Linked DNA regions of Homo sapiens. The protein of the gene in region 1 purifies or fractionates together with the protein of each later gene. This does not show direct contact. Each region holds a gene or a part of one and is shown in the gene's direction. Other genes may lie near its edges. The genes, in order: SALL2, GFPT2, ZMYM1 and PTCD2.

Evidence for each region.
Region 2: the proteins of SALL2 (region 1) and GFPT2 purify together in Homo sapiens (affinity purification with mass spectrometry; 2 studies listed by BioGRID and IntAct, with this or other methods). This does not show direct contact.
Region 3: the proteins of SALL2 (region 1) and ZMYM1 purify together in Homo sapiens (affinity purification with mass spectrometry; 2 studies listed by BioGRID and IntAct, with this or other methods). This does not show direct contact.
Region 4: the proteins of SALL2 (region 1) and PTCD2 purify together in Homo sapiens (affinity purification with mass spectrometry; 2 studies listed by BioGRID and IntAct, with this or other methods). This does not show direct contact.

What each region holds. Positions count from the first base shown.
Region 1 is NC_000014.9:21,520,580-21,523,346, reverse strand, and holds the end of SALL2 (sal-like protein 2), read left to right. Parts: coding exon 1-643; 3' UTR 644-1,102; coding exon of another isoform or gene 1,103-1,339; 3' UTR 1,340-2,267; downstream 2,268-2,767. UniProt on the Homo sapiens protein: Probable transcription factor that plays a role in eye development before, during, and after optic fissure closure.
Region 2 is NC_000005.10:180,343,293-180,350,349, reverse strand, and holds part of GFPT2 (glutamine--fructose-6-phosphate aminotransferase [isomerizing] 2), read left to right. Parts: intron 1-7,057. UniProt on the Homo sapiens protein: Controls the flux of glucose into the hexosamine pathway. Most likely involved in regulating the availability of precursors for N- and O-linked glycosylation of proteins.
Region 3 is NC_000001.11:35,110,331-35,116,362, forward strand, and holds the end of ZMYM1 (zinc finger MYM-type protein 1), read left to right. Parts: coding exon 1-117; intron 118-1,441; coding exon 1,442-1,582; intron 1,583-1,756; coding exon 1,757-1,800; intron 1,801-2,646; coding exon 2,647-4,929; 3' UTR 4,930-5,529; downstream 5,530-6,032.
Region 4 is NC_000005.10:72,330,347-72,337,403, forward strand, and holds part of PTCD2 (pentatricopeptide repeat-containing protein 2, mitochondrial), read left to right. Parts: intron 1-911; coding exon 912-1,029; intron 1,030-4,671; coding exon 4,672-4,750; intron 4,751-5,447; coding exon 5,448-5,539; intron 5,540-7,057. UniProt on the Homo sapiens protein: Involved in mitochondrial RNA maturation and mitochondrial respiratory chain function.

The sequences.
Region 1 (2,767 bases):
GGCAATATCAGTGAGAGGTGATTCAGAAGAGGCATCTGGGGCAGAGGAGGAGGTGGGGACAGTGGCGGCAGCAGCCACAGCTGGGAAGGAGATGGACAGTAATGAGAAAACTACTCAACAGTCTTCTTTGCCACCACCACCACCACCTGACAGCCTGGATCAGCCTCAGCCAATGGAGCAGGGAAGCAGTGGTGTTTTAGGAGGCAAGGAAGAGGGGGGCAAACCGGAGAGAAGCTCAAGTCCGGCATCAGCACTCACCCCAGAAGGGGAAGCCACCAGCGTGACCTTGGTAGAGGAGCTGAGCCTGCAGGAGGCAATGAGAAAGGAGCCAGGAGAGAGCAGCAGCAGAAAGGCCTGCGAAGTGTGTGGCCAGGCCTTTCCCTCCCAGGCAGCTCTGGAGGAGCATCAGAAGACCCACCCCAAGGAGGGGCCGCTCTTCACTTGTGTTTTCTGCAGGCAGGGCTTTCTTGAGCGGGCTACCCTCAAGAAGCATATGCTCCTGGCACACCACCAGGTACAGCCCTTTGCCCCCCATGGCCCTCAGAATATTGCTGCTCTTTCTCTAGTCCCTGGCTGTTCGCCTTCCATCACCTCCACAGGGCTCTCCCCCTTTCCCCGAAAAGATGACCCCACGATCCCATGAGCCTGTTTTTCTGTACCTGCTGCTCTTTGTCCCACAGAGCAGAAACAGCTTCACAAAAGGACCTCCCAGAGTTATGAGCCCTGATTTTGTCTTTTTCTCTAAGTTCTTAACATGTTATGTCCCTAGTGGCTTTTCTGTAGTCCCTGAGCTTGGAAATTACTGTGCTTACAAGGGGATGGCCCCCTAAGGAATTTTTCTTCCCTCCTCATTCTTTGTACCTGAGGAACATAGATTCTCTGCAGCTTTCTCAAGGGGAACCCTCTCCAGCTTCCCTGGTGTGACCCTTCTTCCCCCTCCTCTCTCCTCTCCCTTTCCCTTTGGTAGGTGCACCTGAGCACCTACATTTGGCATTGCAGCCTAGCCAAAAAGGGCTGGCAGCTGTCTCTGGAGGGCCCAGTGCCACTCCTCTGGGGTGACCTTTCTGCTCAGCTGGTGGGTATGGGTCCCCTATCTTTCTAGAACCAGTATGTGGCATTCCTGTCAAATGGCCTGCCCATGAAGCCCTGGAATTCCAGCTCCACCTCCACTACCACTCCAAGCCTGGCCCCACCAGTGCTGTTTGGCCTAGGAACTGTGGCTGGGAAGGTGCCTCCAACAATGGGATCCAGGGAAGCCAAGGAGAAGACAGCCCCCCTCCTATTTCAGCCTCCTGCACCCAAGGCAGTGCCTGAGAAGCCCATCATAGACAAGAAGTAGCAAACTGTACATTCCTTCTTCCTCCCCCTGCTCCAGAAGGTGCCGGTACTGAAGATGCTCCAGTAATTGGTGACCCAACCCTAGGAAGTAGGGAGAAATGAAGGAAGGGCATAGGAAAATTTTCCCAGTAAATCCCCTGATGGTCACATTAAGGTAAAGGTTTTGGCTGGTCAGTGTGCCAAGACCTCTCCAGCTTCTCATTCATGATGACCTCTCAAAGTTGGGAAACAAGCTGATTTCTTGCCAAGAGGTCTCCCAGGAGATATTTGGGAAATGTGAAGTTCGTATCTTTAAGGAGCATTTTTGGTCAGCATGGTTGATGAACTAATGATGAGAGAGTTAAGGAATGTTGCTAGAACATAGGGCTTGCTGGTACCTATGTGACTAAGAAAGGGACATGATGTAAGGGAAAAGGCCTCAAATTCTTGTGAATGTCTGGACATTCTCGTTAATATTCTTTTGGGCTAATAGTGACATAGTGTGCAGAGGTGTACCAGGGATCATGGGGGATTTCCTAGCACTAGTATGCTTCTAGTTTTAGATAACTCCCTCCTTTATTCCCTGGCCCCTTGTATTTTCCTTATCTTCCTCTTTCAAGACCCCTACCCATTTTGCCTATCCGTAGGCTGGGGCTTGTGTCTTTGTCATTGTCTGGTTCTTAAGAGTCCCAGACTTTGGGAGACCAGCTCCAGGTGGCGTCCTCCCTGCCTCTCCGTCTTGTAATGAGTTGTAGTATTTACTCTTAACATAGGATCATTTGGAACAGGAGTTCTGAGGAGGAGAGAGTGAGGGTTTTGCTATTGACTGACTTGAACGATGGCTTCTCCTCAAGCTGTAGGCTCCAGAGCTTCCTAACCTAGTAAAATGTCAAGAACAGACGGGAGATATTAGTGTCTTTCCCTCTATCATTAAAGGTGTTTTAACCAAATATTTATGTGTTTCTCCTTATTTCATGATTACATAGCCAGCTGGGGTGTGATATGGGCATTCCCCAAAATTGAGATTCCCTTCCCACCTACATCTCCTGCCAAAGCTGAACATATGGTGTTGAAATATTTACTTTATTCAGCCTTGTCCTAAGACAACCTTCAGTTAATGTAACTTCTCTGTGGAAATTGTTCCCTGTGGAGTTTGTATTTCCAAAAGGTAGGCATTTGCCCACTGTGTCCAGTCATTGTCTAGATTTTCTCTACCTAGAACCTTCCACCACCAGGCTTTTCTGTGGGTTTTGTTTGGAGGTTGGAAACTGTTTCTTTTCCGTCTTTCTCAAACCACAGATCAGCCTTCTGACATCAGCGAATCTGTAGAACCAAGGTGAATTAAACTTTATGATCCTTGAGATCTGATGTCATAATCAGAAAGAAAAAAATGTAATTCAACCCTAATAATTTCTACCAACAAGACAAAGGAGGATTCTTATCATTAGGA
Region 2 (7,057 bases), on another chromosome or scaffold:
TATTAGTTACCAAAGTACAAAATTGGGAGATTTCACATAAGTAGGTGGGAGTTTTGGCTTCTCTTGACAAAATCTGAAGATGAGCAACCTGGAGTCCTTATTTCCAAATAGGGCCTGGGTGACCCCTTGGGTGATGGACACAAACTCGCCTGTTCTCCCAGTCCTTCCCAGCTGCCTCCCTCACTCATGGGACTCTGCACAACAGAGGCAGGAGCTGACCTTCCTAGGAAGAAGGGGAGGGACCTGGGGCAGTGCCACAAGGACCCAGACACGAGCACGGGCCCTGCAGAGAGGAGGGGGTGGCAGGCACGCTGGGCTGGGGCACAGCATGAGCTGGAGTGTGGCAGCATGGACCAGGCATGCATGGGGATTTGGCAGGAAGGATTTGCGCTTCCCATCCACGAATTTGTAAACTGTCCCTGTGCGTCCCATACTGCACTTAGTAATCTGTGAGGGAGAAAAAAAAAAAAACAATCACTGTGAAGAGCTGGAGAATTCTTAGTTCTTGCCAGAAGGTGAAGCCCTTGCCTTGACATCACCGTCTTTTGTCCTGGTTGGTGTGTTCGTCTCCACTGGCTGCTGTAACAAATGACTGCAAACTTACTGATTTAAAACAACAGAAATGTATTCGCTCACAGTTCTGGAGACCACAAGTCCAGAATCGGTTTTACTTGGCCCAGATCAAGGTACCTTCAGGGCTGAGCCTCCTCCAGAGGCTCTGAGGAGAATCTGTCGCCGGCCTCTCCCAGCTCCTGGGGCTGCCGCGTTCCTTGGCTTGTGGCTGTGTCGCTCCAGTCTCTGTGCTGGCTGCAGCCCTCCACTGTCTCCTCAGGGGATTCCCAAGTTCAGAAAAACCTTCTTTTTATAACTTTATGGTATAGCATCAGTAAACAGTGCTTTTCAATTGAGAGATTATTTTTGTATCTAGCAAAATTAGCTTATAAAGAGTGATTAATTTGAGGTTATAAGTTTGAGAGAAAATTCTGAAAATGAATTTCACAATAAAACAATTAAACTATTTAGGTATTTTATTTTTATTTTTAGAGGCAGAGTCTCACTCTGTTACCCAGGCTGGGATGCAGTGGGGCAATCATGGCTCACTGCATCCTTGAACTCCTGGGCTCAAGCCATCCTCCCACCTCGGCCTCCCAAAGTGCTGGGATTACAGGCATGAGCCACTGTACCTGTCCCCTTCTTTTCTTAAGATTTTTTTTTCTTTTAATTAAATATATATCACTTCCCTCTTTGTTTTTGGTGAAACTGTAAGAATGAAAGGGACACTGGCAACTTTTCTATTAAAAAATAGAAATGGCCGGGCACGGGGACTCACACCTGTAATCCCAGCACTTTGGGAGGCCGAGGTGGGTGGATCACGAGGTCAGGAGATCGAGACCATCCTGGCCAACATGGTAAAACCCTGTCTCTACTAAAATACAAAAAATTAGCCAGGTGTGGTGGCACGCACCTGTAGTCCCAGCTACTCGGGAAGGAGAGGCAGGAGAATTGCTTGAACCCAGGAGGCAGAGGTTGCAGTGAGCCGAGATCGTGCCACTACACTCCAGCCTGGCGACAGAGCAAGACCCTGTCTCAAAAAAAGAAAACAAAAAAAAAAAAAAAGAAAAGAAATGTCCTGTCCAGGTTACCACAGGAAGCAGAGTCTATTATCTCATGGATTCCAATGGTGAGGTCACTTTAACTCCTGGGGTCCCAAAGAGGCCTGGGGCAGTCTGGGGCTGTCTCCAGGGGAGCCAAGTCCCCTTCTTACCCTGAGCCAGGTGCCGCGTCTGCTCAGGGCCCCCGCCAGGCCCGCAGGCTCCTCTGTCTTTCTGTAAGAGCCTGGCGTGGGATCACATGCATCCGCGGCACCTCCAGCTTTGATCTTGTTTCTGCAAGGAGGTGGCAGGAATTGTCATCCCTGCTTCACCAAGTGACCTTTCCCAGTGTATGAGAGGCCACAGCTCCTCAGCAGCCCTTGCCCAAGGCCCAGGGGACTCTCCACACCTGTGGGCCTCACCCAGGAGAGTGGACCTGTCCCTCTTCCCCCAACACACACAGGCAGGCCCAGGCACACACGTGCACACGCTCGGGAATTTCACGAGCCCTCATTGAGGCAGACATTCAACTGGCCGTACTCTTCTGTTGAGGCAGGAAGTAATCCAGTTTGGGACCTGGGATGATACCTAATCTCTAGGAGGCTCATGGACTATAAAGGTCAGCCCCTTCAGTTCGGAGAAGCAACAGATGGTGGGAGAAAGACAGATCTCTGAGGGGTGAGTCCTGGCCTGGGTGGGTGGTGACATAGCTTCCAGAGCCAACCTGTCCTGTGTGGAGCACTGGCTGGGCCTCTCCCTGGAACGGTCCCCTCACTCAGAGTGAGGGCTGGGCTTTCGTTGGGAAGCCGATGCTTGGAAAGTTGGAGAGATTTTTCAAAACAAGCGTCACCAGAATCAGAACGTGGGCCCAACCTGGCTGCTGCGAAGTGGTGTCTTCCCCATCCCCCAGGCCGCAAATCATCCCTCCCCTCCACCCCCACGCTCAGCACTCCAGGGGCTGTAGAGGAAATCCCAGGAATTCAGTGCCCTAGTGTGGCTGACCTTCTGGCTGGGTGTCCAGGGAATATCATCTCCCTGCGCTGGCCATTGTCGTTATCTGTCACTTGGGGGTTGAACCCTGAGCTTCAGAGGCCCTGCCTGCGTGCCCCTTCATGATGTCTTTGCTCCTGACTTCCTGTGTGATCTCTCGGGCCTTGTGCAGAGAAAGTGCTGGAAGCCCCAGAATATAGCAGTGAGCCGGGGCCAAGAGGCTACAGTCTCCTCTCGGAGGGCTCATGTCGAATCCCTTCTGGAATCCCCTTGAGTTTTTCTCGGTCCCTCTCCTTCTGGGACCTTTCCCGGTTCATTTTATCTATCAATTTTGAGGATAGGGCCCTGAAAGGCTGTCTGGAAGCTCTGGGTGGGTGACCACAGGGCACATGACCAAACTGGGTGGTGGGGCCAGGGCAGCCTCTGCCCCCAGGCCGGGCCTTTCTCCAAGCCACCTGGGCTCTCCTGCTGGTAGGAAGGATGCTTGGCCCAGGGCCATCTTTGCAGAGGTTGCAAAGTGCTCCTTTTCTTTAGAAAGATCTCCAGGCTCCTGTATCTCAGACTTTCCATAAAGCCTGCATTTTCAGGCTCTCCTGCCTTCGGCTCTCCTGGCCTCTCAATCCCAACCCTCTGCAGGCTCTTGGGAACCTGAAGGCACCTCCCTGTCCAGCCCCTCTGGGCGCTCAGCATCCCCCACCTGGCTGGGTCCATCCCCTGTCTCTTCAATGTGAGAAATAAGACTGCTCCCAGGTTTGCTAGGCCTGATGTCTGTTCCCTCTCAGTTCTGCAAGGAGATTTCCAAGCTAAGAAGAGTAACAGAAAGGGGAAAACTTTCCCCCAAAGAAGTTTGGTGTTATTTACTGCCCCGTTCTCAGCTCATTTAAAATCCTGTCGCCTGCCAGTGATGCCTTTCTTACGCCGTGGGCAGCCCTGGGAGTGGAGGCTAGGAAAGAGCAGTAGATCAAGGTAGAAAGTGACAGATGCCTTGAAAAGGGGACGGAAAGTTGGAAAAAGGGGTTCAGAGGAGGGAAAAGATCTTCATCTGGGGTAGGGGGTTGGAGAAGGCATCACATGTGCATAGGCCTGGGGGCCCCAGGGGCGCACGCACTGGGCTGAGGGCACCCTGCAGGAGTGGGACCCAGAGGGCGGAAGCTGCAGGGTGGCATGGGGAGCAAGGCGGGCTCAGGCCAGACAGCAGGAGGGGTTGACGTCACGCGGTGGGCCCGCGGGGCAGAGAAGACGAGAGAGGGATGTAGCTGGAACCTGCCTTGCCGTGGTCACCGAGGCCCTGGTGGGGTGGGGGCTGAACAGGAGGAGAAAGGTGGAGTTGGAAGCTGGACTGTCCCGTGGTGGGGCTTGGCTCTCAGGGGGCAGCACCTGTCCTGGACCCATCTGGTGCTAGGCGGGCATCTCCTCAGAAGCCAGGGACCCTCTGTGTGAGCTATACCTTTCTTCTTGGGATAGGTTTCTATGCTGATTGTGGGGAGGTGGGGGTAGAAGTGGTGAGCCCAGGCTTGCAAAAAGGCAGACCTGGCTGTGAATTCCTCAAGTCTTTGGCAGTGGAGCCTCCGATGCCATCTCTATCCCTGGGAACCACAGTCTCTTCACACAGGATGTCATGAGGATTAGAGGAGGTGAAGCTCGGGAAGGGTTGGCATGCGGGGAGCCACTGTAGATGGTGGTTTACCCAGCAGGGTTCTGGGAGCCTTCCCTAGGCCCTGGCTCATTTGATTAGAAGGCTGTCCTCATGCCAGTCCTGGGATCCTCATGGTGCATGGGGCCGGGGGTGTTGTGCGGGGGGATGTAAGCCTCTGTGTTTGATTATCTTGGGGTTAACCGAGAGTTCTGGTGGCACCGTGCTCCCATTGTAAGGGTCTGGCACTCAGGGACCTCCTGCCTCTGTGTCCCTCTTGTCCTTGCTGTGGGTCCCAGTGAGCGGAGCTGCTTATGCTTGGCTGAACGTGGCTGTCTCAGACCCAGCTCAAAGGCTACCTTCTCTGGCATTCCTCCATCTGTTCATTCATTCACTCAACATGGATTTATTGAGCACCTAAGATGTGCCAGGCCCTGGGCCAGGTGCTGGGGACTCAGCAATGGATGAGACAGATGTGGTCCCATCCTCCAGAAGGTTACAATCCAGCGGGGAGCCGAAGAAAAAGACAAGGAAGCAAGTGCAGCGTGGAATAACCAGGGCTATGTGGCTGGAGAAGGTGGTGGGAAAGATCTGCTAAAACCTGCAGAATGGGTCAGAGGCGCCTTTGCGAAGAGCTAGCAAGAGCCAGCCTTGCAAAGAGCTGCCTACTCCCACCCCAGCGGGAAGCCCTTTCCCACCTCCCCTGTGGGCTTGGGAGGTCCCTGTGCATCCCTGTCCTTCCCTGGAGCGCTCAGTGAGGCCCCCCGATGGGTCCATCCCAGTAGCTTGCAGCACCTAGTACAGCAACGCGGCCTTGTGGGCCTGAGAACTGCTTACAGATGAATTAAATCTTGACCAAGCCACAACCAAGTAACGCATTTGGTTTAACCATTATTTCCCCAGGCAGAAGGCCAAGATGAAATGACAGTAAATGGTACTATTTCCCCCTTGGTTTTATTGAATGATAAATCTCTCAAGGGATAATTTCTCAAGCTCCTTGCCCTGTGGCAGGCACTATTGTAGCCATCACCCTGTTTCACTGACAGGGAAACTGAGGTCCGAACATTCAGTGGCTTGCTGGAGAGTGCACTGAAATCAAGGGGTGGAGCTGGGGTTCGAGGTGGGTTCCGGCACTGGCCACGGCCTCTGTGCTTCTGGGTATGCCTTGGCTGGTGAATGGCAGCAGCAGGGAGGAAGCCAACCCAGGCGGGTGGCCCTGGGCTGGTGTTTTTAAGGCTGGGGCATGTGCTTAGGTTGCCCCTTATTACAGCCCTCTTATGGCCGTTGCTCTTCCAGGGGAGTGGAACAGGGGACCAGCCAAGTCAGGTGGGCCCGGCCCCTCTTGTCGAGGGGCAAGAAGGCCTGGCCAGGGCAGGCCTGGCGTCCCCTGCAGAGGGAAGGGCCATTGTGGCCCTGGTGCTTCGGACATGCCAGGAGGGTTCAAGCACCGGTGGAAAGCAGAACCAGCCAGAGGTCCGGCCTGGCTGGGGGTCCCAGGTGCCGCACGGTCACTCCTCCTGTACCCAGAAGCTCTCAGGTCCCACTCAGCAGAATGCCTGTGCCACAGGAAATCCAGGTGAACCAGGCAGGTCTGCGTCATGTACACCACTGTCCAAACAGTCGGTCCATGTTAACCCTCAGGCCTTGGCTAGGACATCCCCCTGTGGATAGAATGAAGTCTTTGCTTATTTAGACATTATCTGGCATCTAGATAATGGTGATGTACTCATCACCACCTAATTCACATAGGGGCACATGTGCCATGGCACACGGTGAAATGTCTTAACCATCTAAAGAGGACACGTGCAGTGGAAAGGAAGTTTCTGCTCAACATCCAGTGACCTCAGAGGCTACCTTTGACTGCCCTCTGGGCGTGGTGCCCTTCTAGAAATGCTCCATGCTCCTCCCCCAGCCCTTGCGTAATTTACTCATATTCTGCAAGCTTCTTTTTCCCTTGACACATCTTGGAGATTTAAATTGCCTTCCAAGAGAATGCACAGCTTTCCCTTGCTCTCTGTTGAGGGCTGCCTGTAAAAGGCCCTGCTGTGTGGCTGCACTGTCCCTTGCCTGTCCCTTGCCTGTCGCTTGCCAGACATCAGACTGTCACTAGTCTTTGGCAACCACAAGAGCCCTGAGCAGCTGTCCTCGCACGTGTGCACATGCATCTCTGCAAAAAGTCCGCTGGATACCTTCTTAGAAGCCCAACAGCTCTGGTCCACAGATGTGTACATTTTTAATTTTGAGAGATTGCCAGATTGCTTTCCAAAGAGGGTATGTGAGTTTAAACTCTCACTGTCCAACTGTTTGATCTTTACCGACCTCATGGGTTTAAAAAAGTGGATTCTCACTGTAGCTTTTATTTATGGATGGAAGGAATTCCAAAAGGGAATTCTGATGTAAATAGCAGGAGAAATTCCTGGGAAAGGAGCTTCATTTTATTCTGTGTTTTATTTTTAAATGATAAGAGCACAGCGTGAACGCTATTTTATTCACTTGAGTGCAGTAGAGTGCAGGGAGGATCCAGCCAAGAGGATGAGCTGCAAAAGCAAAGAAACAGAGCTTCCTTCATGAAAGAAGTGACCGAAGGGATGTCACTACGCAAGAGGGCTCGTGGTGAAAATGAGATTTATGCTTTCTTGCGCCAAGATGGTGAAAACCACACTCCTTGGCAGCTTTTCTCACTGCAGTCAGCTCCCCTGCTGTGCCTGAGTGGGCACCGGGCCTCCTGGCTGGGTACGGACACAGCTGGTGGTCCTGAGGACAAGGACCCCTTATGCCCCCGCTGCTGTCCAGGAGGCTGTCGTGGGTCTGAAAGTCAGCGGTGCCTTGCGGAGCGTGCCGA
Region 3 (6,032 bases), on another chromosome or scaffold:
CATTGAAGCCCTCAGATGAAATGATTGAGACTACGAGTGATTTGGGGAAGACAGAGCTTTTCTGCTCTATTAATTGTTTCTCTGCATACAGTAAAGCTAAGATGGAATCTTCTTCAGGTAATGTTTGTTTAGCAATTGTAGGGGTTTAGTAATTATTAATAAATAATATTATTTGACTTTAATTTATAACCTTGATTCATTTTCAAATTAAACCGACTTTTAAAAGTCAAAACAATCTAAACTTGTTGCAAAGAACTGTTTTTCAGTATTTTTGTATAAAAGGAAGGCTACTTTACCACCAGAGATTTAATATTTGTAGGCCAAGCACGGTGGCTCATGCCTGTATTCCCAGCACTTTGGGAGGCCAAAGTGGGCAGATCGCCTGAGGTCAGGAGTTTGAGACCAGCCTGGGCAACATGTTGAAACCCCGTCTCTACTAAAAATACAAAAAAAATTAGCTGGGCGTGTTGGTGGGTCCCTGTAGTCCCAGCTACTTAGGAGGCTGAGACAGGAGAATCATTTGAACCTGGGTGGTGGAGGTTGCAGTGAGCCGAGATCGCACCATTGCACTCCAGTCTGGGTGACAGAGTGAGACTCCATCTCAAAAATAATAATAATAAAAATTAAAAGATACATGTCTTTTTTTAGATTATTTAGTAAATGAATATATGTATGTTTACATCAATATATATTGAGCACCTACTGCAAAACATGGTACATAGGAGGCACTTGGTCAATATAGAGTTTAATACATTTACAAGACTGCTTTTATTAGAATATAGAATGTTTTACTTAGCCCTGTTTTGTAAAAACAAGTTTTCATTACATTTTTCACATGAAATAGAAGTGATTGTAAATGCTTTAAGACTCAATAATAAAAAAGCACAAATAATCTGAGCCAACTAAGTATTCCATCAAAAAGCCTCATGTAGGACCAGTGGTGCTATTTACATAGACCATAGAGTGACTAATGCCTCTGGGATTTGTAAGTCATACAAACTGGCTTGTTACAGAAATTTCTGCAATAGTGGCTTGGGCACCAACCTAGCGCTCCATTGATGTTAAGGTTTATGAATCCTGGAAGAGTTTGAAATAGATGCCCATTAGGAGATTCAATCAGAATCTCTTTTCTTCATGAGTAATTTCACAGAAAAATTTGCTCATAATTTTAAACAAATTCTTTAAAAGGACTGGGAAATTGTGTACAAAGGTAAAAGACATAAAATGTTGGAGAAGTGTAAATTTTCAGTGTAATGTTGTAATTATAAATACGATACTAAAGAACCTGGCTATTCCTAAGCCCTAATAAAAATTACTTCAGTACCTACCAATTCCTTAAGCTATTAGATGCTTGCATTATTTCTTTAAACAGTATTACTAAACAGTACTTTCTGATGATTGATTTTGCCTTGTTTATAAGAAATCTTTTTATTGTTGTCAGTAAGTGTTGTTTCTGTGGTGCATGATACTTCAACAGAGCTTCTTTCTCCAAAGAAAGATACGACTCCAGTTATAAGCAATATAGTGTCATTGGCAGACACCGATGTTGCCTTGCCCATCATGAACACTGATGTCTTACAAGGTAAAAGTTGATGTTAAGATATTTGACATAAATATTGTTTTGTCATACTTGATAAATCTGTCTATATGCTAAATTTTCTTTTTGTTTCTTATATGAAATAAGCAAATATAGTTTATGATGCTATTTTATAGGTTATAGTATATAAGATCTTGAATTTATGCTCTATTTTAACAGATACAGTTTCTTCAGTAACAGCAACAGCAGATGTCATTGTGGATGTAAGTTTTAACTTTTTTTACCACTGTCTTTTTTTAATAAGCAGATTTTTGTTGTTGTTGTTGTTGAGACAGAGTCTCGCTCTGCCACCCAAGCTGGAGTGCAGTGGCGTGATCTCAGCTCACTGCAACCTTTGCCTCCTGGGTTCAAGCGATTCTCCTGCCTCAGCCTCCTGAGTAGCTGGGATTACCAGCGCCTGCTACCATGCCCAGTTAATTTTTGTATTTTTAGTAGAGAAGGGGTTTCACCATGTTGGCCAACCTGGTCTCGAACTGCTGGCCTCAGGTGATCCGCCCACCTTGGCCTCCCAAAGTGCTGGGATTACAGGCATGAGCCACCACACCTGGCCCAGATTTTTTATATATATATATAATATATACTATAATATATAAAAATATAAATATATAATATAAATATATTATAATATATTGTATATAATATAAATATATTATAATGTATATTTATTATATATTATATTTATATATTTAATATATATTTTATGTATTATGTATTCATATATGGGGTGTGTGTGTATGTTTGTAGATTGTTTAAACAGAAGTATTTTTTTCCTCTGGGTTCTTCTTTTAAAAAAATACTACACAATTTGAGTCATCTGAGCAATAAAAATTATTTTTATGACAATTACATACCAAAAGGTCCTTCAAACATTTAATGCTGAATCTAGATTGCAAATAAATAAGTTATACGTAATTGTTAACGTTTCCCCCTAGTGGAGCTCATACTGTAACTCAGCCATTTATTTTACTATGTTATTAGAGTAGATATATTTGATATTTTAATTAATTTTTGAAAACTGTTAAATGTTCTTTTCTCATTTTCTCCCAAAGCTTTCTAAGAGTTCACCTAGTGAACCCAGTAATGCTGTTGCTAGTAGTAGTACGGAACAGCCAAGCGTTTCACCATCTTCATCAGTATTCAGTCAGCATGCAATTGGTTCCAGTACAGAAGTACAAAAAGACAATATGAAATCTATGAAAATAAGTGATGAACTATGTCACCCAAAATGTACATCCAAAGTACAAAAAGTTAAAGGTAAATCACGAAGTATTAAAAAATCTTGTTGTGCAGATTTTGAGTGTTTGGAAAACAGTAAAAAAGATGTGGCATTCTGTTATTCATGCCAGTTGTTCTGCCAAAAATATTTTAGCTGTGGAAGAGAGTCATTTGCAACCCACGGAACTTCTAATTGGAAAAAAACCCTGGAAAAATTCAGAAAGCATGAAAAAAGTGAAATGCATTTGAAGTCATTGGAATTTTGGAGAGAATACCAATTTTGTGATGGAGCTGTCAGTGACGATTTATCTATTCATTCGAAACAGATTGAGGGAAATAAAAAGTACCTAAAGCTTATAATTGAAAATATTTTATTTCTTGGAAAGCAGTGTTTACCCTTAAGAGGAAACGACCAGTCAGTTTCATCTGTGAATAAAGGCAATTTTTTAGAATTGTTAGAAATGAGAGCAAAAGATAAAGGAGAAGAAACATTTCGACTTATGAATTCACAAGTTGACTTCTATAACAGTACACAAATTCAAAGTGATATTATCGAAATAATAAAGACTGAAATGTTGCAGGATATTGTGAATGAGATCAATGACTCCTCAGCATTTTCAATCATATGTGATGAGACAATCAATAGTGCCATGAAAGAACAGCTTTCAATTTGTGTAAGATACCCACAAAAATCATCAAAGGCTATCTTAATTAAGGAAAGATTCTTGGGTTTTGTTGATACTGAGGAGATGACTGGGACCCACTTACATAGGACTATCAAAACTTATCTGCAGCAAATTGGAGTTGATATGGATAAAATACATGGCCAGGCCTATGATAGCACCACTAATTTGAAGATAAAATTTAATAAAATAGCAGCAGAATTCAAGAAAGAAGAACCAAGAGCTTTATACATACATTGTTATGCACACTTTTTGGATTTATCAATAATTAGGTTTTGTAAAGAAGTAAAAGAACTCCGAAGTGCTCTAAAAACTCTCAGTTCTTTGTTCAACACTATTTGTATGTCTGGGGAAATGTTGGCAAATTTTCGAAACATTTATAGGCTAAGTCAAAACAAAACATGCAAGAAACATATATCACAATCATGTTGGACAGTCCATGATCGTACATTACTATCTGTGATTGACAGTCTTCCAGAGATTATTGAAACATTGGAAGTTATAGCAAGCCATTCTTCAAATACAAGTTTCGCCGATGAATTGAGTCATTTGCTGACATTGGTTTCCAAATTTGAATTTGTCTTTTGTTTGAAATTCCTGTATCGAGTGCTGAGTGTTACAGGAATTCTTTCCAAAGAGCTTCAAAATAAAACCATAGACATTTTTTCTTTGTCTTCAAAAATAGAAGCAATTTTGGAATGTTTATCATCTGAAAGAAATGACGTATACTTTAAAACAATCTGGGATGGAACAGAGGAAATATGTCAAAAAATAACCTGTAAAGGTTTTAAAGTTGAAAAACCTTCTCTTCAGAAAAGAAGAAAAATTCAGAAATCAGTAGATCTTGGCAATTCAGATAATATGTTTTTTCCTACTTCAACAGAAGAACAATATAAAATTAATATCTATTACCAAGGATTAGATACTATATTACAAAATTTAAAGTTATGTTTTTCGGAGTTTGATTATTGCAAAATAAAGCAAATTTCAGAACTGTTATTTAAATGGAATGAACCATTAAATGAAACAACAGCAAAACATGTTCAGGAATTTTATAAACTTGATGAGGACATTATCCCAGAACTTAGATTTTATCGACATTATGCAAAGCTTAACTTTGTCATAGATGATAGTTGCATAAACTTCGTCAGTCTCGGCTGTTTGTTTATTCAGCATGGTCTTCACAGTAATATTCCTTGTCTCTCAAAGCTATTATATATTGCTTTGTCTTGGCCAATTACTTCAGCAAGTACTGAGAACTCATTTTCTACCCTGCCTCGTCTTAAGACATATTTATGTAATACCATGGGACAAGAGAAGCTTACTGGCCCAGCCCTAATGGCTGTTGAGCAGGAGTTGGTAAATAAACTAATGGAGCCTGAAAGACTCAATGAAATTGTGGAAAAGTTTATCAGTCAGATGAAAGAAATATAATACATGCTCATTTGAACTTACCTAAAAGACTTGTATTTCCATTGGGATGTTTTCATTTCAAAATTGTTCAAAATTCAAAAGACACAGAACGATAAACAGTGAAGTCTCCTTCCCTCCTTTAGAACTCATTTTCTCTTCCCAAAAAGTGTTATCTTTTCCTTAAATATCCCTCTAGAGGTATTTTTCCTAAGTGGTATTGTACGGTGTATACTGTTCTTCAGCTTGTCTTCTCTGTGTAACATATTTTTGAGATTGTCCCATGTCGTTACATGAAGAGTTTCTTGATTCTTGGTCTATAATTGCAGATGTTATTGTATGAATGTACCATAATATATTTGAGCAGTCCCTGCTGACATTTTTTTCCTAACCTTTTGCTATTATAAATAATGATTCATTTTATAACCTTTTATATAGGTCACATTGCACATGAGTGAGTTTACTGTAAGCTGGAAATCTAAAGTTAGAATTACTAGGTTAAGATATGTGCATTTTTACTTTTGATAGATATTGGCAAGTTGCCATCTATAAGGATTGTGCCAGTTTACAGTCCCACCCACAATGCATGAGAGTGCCTATTAAATCTTTGTAAGTGTTATCAAATGTTTTGATCTTTCCTAATCTCTTACTTTAAAAATGGCGTTTTAATCTCAGTAGAATTTTGTATATTCACTTAAGAATAAGGTTGGGGACTGGGCGTGGTGGTTCACACCTATAATCTCAGCCCTTTGAGGGCCTACACAGGAAGGAAGATCGCTTGAGGCCACGAGTTCAAGATGAGGTTGGCAACATAGTAAGACCTCATCACTACAATTTTTTTTTTTTTAAATTAGTGAAGTGTGGTACTGCACACCCGAAGTCCCAGCTACTTGGGAGGCTGAGGCAGGAGGATTGCTTAAGCCCAGAAATTTGAGGCTGCAGTGAGCCATGATTGCACCACTATGCTCCAGAGTCTAGGCAACAGAGTGAGACCTTATCTCTTTAAAACAAACAAGAATGAAGTTAGGTATCTGTTTATTTGTTTGAGCCATTTGTATTTCCTTTTTTGTAGACTGTCCTGTTTAAACGTTAAAATCACTGCTGTGGTTTTGATTTATACATCTCAG
Region 4 (7,057 bases), on another chromosome or scaffold:
ACTCTGACTCCTCGATGATTTTTAGCAGAAGGTAAAAAGTATCCTGTTTTATCATCAGCGCTTCTCCCCAAGGTATTTTAGATTCACTCATTATATGAATCTAAATCTGAAAGAAATATGAATATGAAGATTCTTAATGAATAAGTCTTTCTAAAATCTGATTTATGTGTAATCATGAGGTGTTGATTTTGTCATATATTGTCCTCTTGGTGTCTAAAGCAAAAAGAATTGGTTATTGAAAGTAAATTTACAGTAGTGATATGCAGTTCTGACTGGCAGACTGGCTGCCTGTAGAAATCTCAAGCCACATAGAAGACATCATTATCTTTGAGATTAGCCTTTTCCTAAAACTTAAACATTCAAAACCACATTTAATTTGTTTAGCCAGGTGATCATAGCCCAGGTGTACCTTTCTCAAGCTTAGAAAAGCAGAGAGTTGCTGTAAATTGTAAATGTGACTGTTGGTTGTCTGCCATCCTATATGAGGATGAAACCAGCCTCCAGGAGCACAGAGCATCACCCCCACTTCTTTCCCTTGTTCTCCTCTGGGTGGGGCCCATTCTGATGCACTTACAGATGCTACTAGACTCCTGCTGTTTCTTAAGGTGTGCTCACACTCAGTCTAGGGGTTGTTTCTAAATTTAGAGAATGATTACAACATACGTTTTTCCTCTGTTTCTTTTATTTTATGTCAGTCTGCTGTAAATTCTGTTTACTTGTTTAAATGATTGGTGTACTTCTGCACTCCAGGATTCCTGATTGTCTGAAATCTCCATTTCTCCCCCTCCAGACTGTGAGAGGACTTCGTTCTCTGTTGTGTCCCAGTACCTGGCACAGTACCTGCCATAGTCTGTGTCTGTCCTTTTTCCTGTGTCCTACCTTTTGGCTCATTGAATCATTTTCATTACCAGGTACCATGCAGAGAACAAAAATTTCACTTTGGGGGAGTATAAATTTGGACCGCTTTTTGTGAGGTTGTGTTACGAGTTGGATCTCGAGGAATCTGCAGTGGAGCTCATGAAAGACCAGGTTATTGTTTCCTAATTGTTTTCTCTGCCAATGTGTGTGTTTTTGGTGATATTGGAAAAGGCATGTCTTCTATGTACATTATTCCTGGGTTAGATTTTCAAAGAAAGGCTGCTGGGGCTGAATGAGCACATCTCTGCATTTTTAAGTTTCCTTGCAGTCAGTTTGTGTGAAGGGGGGTGGAGTAATATAGAACAAGTGTGGAGGAGGTATAGGTACAGATGATCCTACCTTGGATGTGTATCAATGTGGGTTGTACACCTGCTTTTTTAGGGGCTTTCAATAGAGAAGAGCTTAAGACAGTCTCCATTTAAAGACTGACATTCCTATCCTTTACCTGTATTCCCTCTCGATTTTGTATTTGTATTTTTCTGGTTGAAGACTACATTTGGGAAGTGCTTTTCTATTTTCAAAATACTTTCCGTCACATATTCTGACTTTCTGTTCCTAAAAACAAAAGTAAATAATTATTTTTACAGCTACTCATTGAATATTTACTATGTCTTCAGCATTGTGTTTAAGTACTTTAAATGTTTCATTTTATTTGTTTCTCACAATAGCCCTGATAAGGTAGATTTCCATTTTGTAGATAAAGAAACTAGGACCTAGAGACATTATAAATTCATTCATTCATTATGAAGTCATTTTGATTACTAGATGCCATGTAGAGAACAGAAACATCACTTTGGGGGAGTGTAAGCTTAGACTGCTTTTCATGAGGCTGTGTTTCCCATAATCAGAAACATTTGCTAAATTTTGGGGCCACGGCTGGCCACCAGGTACCTTTTTGTATATTTAGGAACTTACATAACAAGTTGAGTTGTTCTTCTGCCTCTTACTCTTTTTTTATACAAAATTTTCTCTGTACATGGTGGGCATGTTAACTCTAGACTTGCTCCTATTTAATGACACCTGTGTATTAGAAAGATACCCATAATATATTAGTAAGCAGAGAAAAGGTTGTTTCGGAACAGTACAGATAGTTTGATCCTGTTTTTTTTTGTTCCATAAGAAAAGACACATATTAACATTAACATTTTAACAAAATATAAATACATAGATACTGGAAAGATAGACACTAAATCACTTTATCTTTAGGGGGTAGAATTATTAAAAATTCTCACTTTTTACTTTATACATTTTTGTATTATTTGACTATTTTTAATAAACATATGTTAATGTTTCAGTTAAAGGAAAACAAAAGCTTCCCACTGTAATAAATCATAGCCATGAGTATGGTGATAAAAACAAAAATAAAAAAGATGAAAGCAAACGGGTTTTTTTTAGCCTGCTTGTATATGAAAAAGTCATGTATAGGTAAATTTTCTGGAGTAGAATGGACAAATTCGAGTAAGTGACATAGGACCTAATCCTGCTTCTAGCCGAACTTCTCTTGTTCCCTACTTACAACCCTGTAGTGTTGCCAGCATGGTAGCCACATGGAGTCATTGAACTGTGGCTAACTCAAATTTACATGTGCTGTAAGTATAAAATATATGATGGATTTTAATTACTTGTTATAAAAAGAATGCAATGTATGTTAATTTTTATATTGATTACATGTTGAAATTACATCTTGGATATAGTGGGTTAAATAATTTAGTCTATTTCTGTTTACTTTTTTAAATGAGGCTAATTGAAAATTTAGAGTCACATACATTGTGATTCTAAAATATCCTTGGTGACTCAAAATGCTTTTCCATTGGCTGGGGCTGCTCTGGTGGCTTTCCCTCACACTTAGAAGAAAACCCAGACCCTTGACTCTGACCTAGGGGGCCCATTGTGCCATCTCCCCTTTCTCCCTTGCTGACTTCACTCTGGACCTGCATGTTCTTCCTCAGCCATGGCGAGCTCACAGCCTCTAACTGGAACATTCTGCATTCTTATCCTTGAGGCTCCCTCCTTGACCTCACTGAGGTCTCTTCTCACAGTGCCTTCCCTGACTACCTTCCATCCATCTTCTCTACTTGCTCTTCATAGACTTTACTAATAGCTGAAATTAATATTTTTTTTCACTTGTCTTATTCACTGTCTTCTCCACCAGAATTTAAGCTCTACTAGATTATAAACCCTAGTAGGGTTTTGAGCAGGGTGTATATCCTGTTTATCATTTCTTTATTCTCAGCACCTAGAACAGGGTCTGCATAGTAGGTGATCGGAAAAGAGTGAACTTGAGCAAGGCATTTAATGACACATTTGAATACCATGTGTCCCATTATCATGGCACACAAAATGTTGAGATGTTAGCAAGATGTTGGTCAAAGGATACAAAATTTCAGTAAGATGGAATAAGTTCAAGGGATTTCTCTGTACAACATAGTGACTATAGTTAATGACAATGTATTGTATTCTTCAAAATTGCCTAAAGAATAGGTTTTATGTACTTTCACCACACAAAATGAGTATGTGAAGTAATGCATATGTTAATTAGCTTGGCTTAGCCATTCTGTAATATATACATATTTCAAAACAACATACTGTTTTTTGGGGTTTTTTTTGGATACAGGGTCTTGCTCCGTCACCTAAGCGGGAATACAGTGGCACTATTATCATAGCTCATTGCAGTCTCATAACTCTTGGGTTCAAGTGATCGTCCTACCTCAGTCTCCCAAGTAGCTAGGATTCCAGCCTTGTGCCACCACACCCAGCTAATTTTTTAAATTTTTATTATTTTTTTTAAGAGATGGGATCTTGCTGTATTGCCCAGGCTGGTCCTGAACTCTTGGCCTCAAGTGATCCCGCCTCTCCCTCCCAAAGTACTGGGATTACAGGCGTGAGCCACCACACCTGGCCAAATATATACAATTTTTATTTGTCAATTAAATAAATACATACAGACAAGTTGGAAAAAAATGTTGAGAACCACTGTTTTGGAGAATTATTTCAAAAGGCGAATAATCAATTCTGTATTATCCGTTGCCAAAAAAAGACCATAGTTGTGTGAGACCCTCCTGCCTTAGTCCTCAAGTATATTTATAGCTGCCATTTCATGTTAATAGCTGGCACCTAGTTTCCAGGACCACTCTGCCAGGGTTAACTGGCTAGTTTCTTTTCTCCTAAGCATGACAAATGACGGTTCCTTAAAGACGTCCTTCATGGTAATTATGAAACCCAGAGATCTCTTGCTATACCTCTCAGCATGACAGCCAAGAGAGTGGACAGCATTTTAACTTTTTTCTTTTTTTTTTTTTCTTTTTGAGACGGAGTCTCGCCCTGTCACCCAGGCTGGAGTGCAGTGGCGTGATCTCGGCTTACTGCAGCCTCCACCTCCTGGGTTCAAGCAATTCTCTGCCTCAGCCTCCTGAGTAGCTGGGATTACAGGTGCCCACCACCATGCCCAGCTAATTTTTGTATTTTTAGTAGAGACGGGGTTTCACCATGTTGGCCAGGCTGGTCTTGAACTTCTGACCTCGTGATCCACCTGCCTTGGGCTCCCAAAGTGCTGAGATTATAGGCGTGAGCCACCACGCCCGGCCAACTTTTCAAAAATAAAACCTGGGTATATAAAATATATTAGAGAATTCAGAAGGCCAAATGAGTAAAGCATGCAGAATAATAAGACCTGGCTAGATAAGAGACAGTAAAAGTACCTCCTCAATAAATAGTTTTAACTTTTAACCAAACTGTATTGTTCTTCTTCGTTAGCATTTACGAGGTTTCTTCTCAGACTCCACATCATTCAATATTTTGATGGATATGTTATTTATCAAAGGCAAATATAAAAGTAAGTACTGCAATTTCTATTTGCTGAAAAATTCTGCCATGTTTGCTGGCATAGGAACTAGGGGGAAAAATGAGTCATGCAAAAATGATTCTTCTGTAATCCCAGCACTTTGGGAGGCTGAGGCGGGTGGATCATGAGGTCAGGAGATCGAGACCATCCTGGCTAACAAGGTGAAACCCCGTCTCTACTAAAAATACAAAAAATTAGCCGGGCGCGGTGGCGGGCGCCTGTAGTCCCAGCTACTCGGGAGGCTGAGGCAGGAGAATGGCGTGAACCCGGGAAGCGGAGCTTGCAGTGAGCCGAGATTGCGCCACTGCAGTCCGCAGTCCGGCCTGGGCGACAGAGCGAGACTCCGTCTCAAAAAAAAAAAAAAAAAAATGATTCTTATATCCCTGATAAGTGGCTGAATTCTGGAGACCTTAGGAAGTTTGAAAACATTGCATTGCATGTCATCCCTTAAACTAAATATCCCAGATTTTACTTATGCTAAAATTGTGAAGCAGCTTTTAAAACATTAGTTCTTCCTGTTTGACTTGATAGTTTATTTCAACATTTAGTTAATTGCTAAATGACTTTGAGGAATAGCTTTTATTTTGTTGAAATACACTTTTCTGTAGATGGTGCTGAACAGATGAGAGCTTTGGGGGCCAACAGTAGAGGAACTCTAACACTGCGATCCACTCTTCACTTTTGGCAGGTGCTTTGCAAGTATTGATAGAGATGAAAAACCAAGATGTGAAGTTCACCAAAGATACCTATGTTCTTGCTTTTGCAATTTGCTACAAACTGGTAAGACTCTTTCCTCTTAACTTTGAGAGCATTGTGTGTAGTCTTTGAGAGAGGATTTTTCTTCTCTCTACAAATAAAATTCAGTTCCTCTGAAATCTGTTTTCCATCTGGTGCAAATGTTTTAATTTTAAATGTTTTTATTTTTAGAAAACTCAAGTTAGCCATATCAGGCAGTTTTATGGGAAAAGTAATTTTTTCATCTTTCACTCTTCTCTGGTGATTGTGTAGATAGTGAGAACAAGAGGCAATGTGTTGGGTTCAGGCTCTGCTTTAAAGTCATCACGCATGCTGGACTCTGCTAGATCCATCTTCCCTGTTGTCCTTGTCTATGGAAATCTTAGCTTCCTTCATTGGTGAGCTCAAGGACTACTTTGTCCTCATATGTGAAGGCTTTTGCAATCACCGAAACTGGAAGTGATGTTTGTCACCTCCAGATATCCCTTAATTTTGCTCTATTTGTGTCACCTCCCTGGTACTTCTGACACAGCTTAATGTACTTAGCAGATGCACGTTCCATTCTCTCCACTTGAGTGTGAGCTCCTTGAGGTTTCTTTGTATCCCACCACCTAACACAGTGCCTGGTATCCAGTAGTTCTTTAATAAACGTATGTGACATGAAAATGAAGTCCAAGGACAGAGACCATGACTTATACGTTCTTTTATCAATACAAAAAATTAGCCAGGCGTGGTGGCATGCACCTTGTAATCCCAGCTACTCTGGAGGCTGAGGCAGGAGAATTGCTTGAACCCAGGAGGCAGAGGTTGCAGTGAGCCAAGGTTGTGCCACTGCACTCCAGCCTGGGTGACAGAGTGAGACTCTGTCTCAAAAAAAAAAAAAAAAAAAAGTTATTTTATTATTACTGTACCAGGATTATTTCTTGCCCATAGAAACTCTTTCTTCAATGTTTAGTGAATGATCATTGAAATAGTGAAATGATCAATGTTTAATGTATTACTGTTGTCATTCGTATCACTTAAACTTTGGAAACCTGGCACACAAAACCTCTTTATACTGAAAACAAAGGAACATGAAGCGAAGTAGAAGAACATGGGCTGTTGAAAAACTCCCCTGAAGAATGTAGCAATACCAGTTTTCCAAAACAAGGGGATAGCTGGGTTATAGTGGAAAGAAAACCAAGTGGAAATTGAGAAACTTGGAGTCTAGTCTCAACTTTGGTATTATATAGCTTATATATATGACTTATATAGCTGTGAACTGATCACCTATCTCATTTTACAAATGAGATGGTTAGATTTGGGAGTCAGCAAACTTTTTTTATGAAAAGCTAGATAGTAAATATTTTAGGCTTTGGGGGCCACATATGTCTCTGCCTCATGTGATCTCTGCCCCATATTCTTTGTTTTTGTTTTTACAGGCCTTTAAAAATGTTAAAGTCATTCTTAGCTGTAGGCTACATTTAGCCCAAGGGTCATAGTTTGCTGACCTCTGGATTCAATAATTCTTTCCATTCATACCATTCTATGATTCTAGGAGGCCAAAAAAAAAACACCACACAG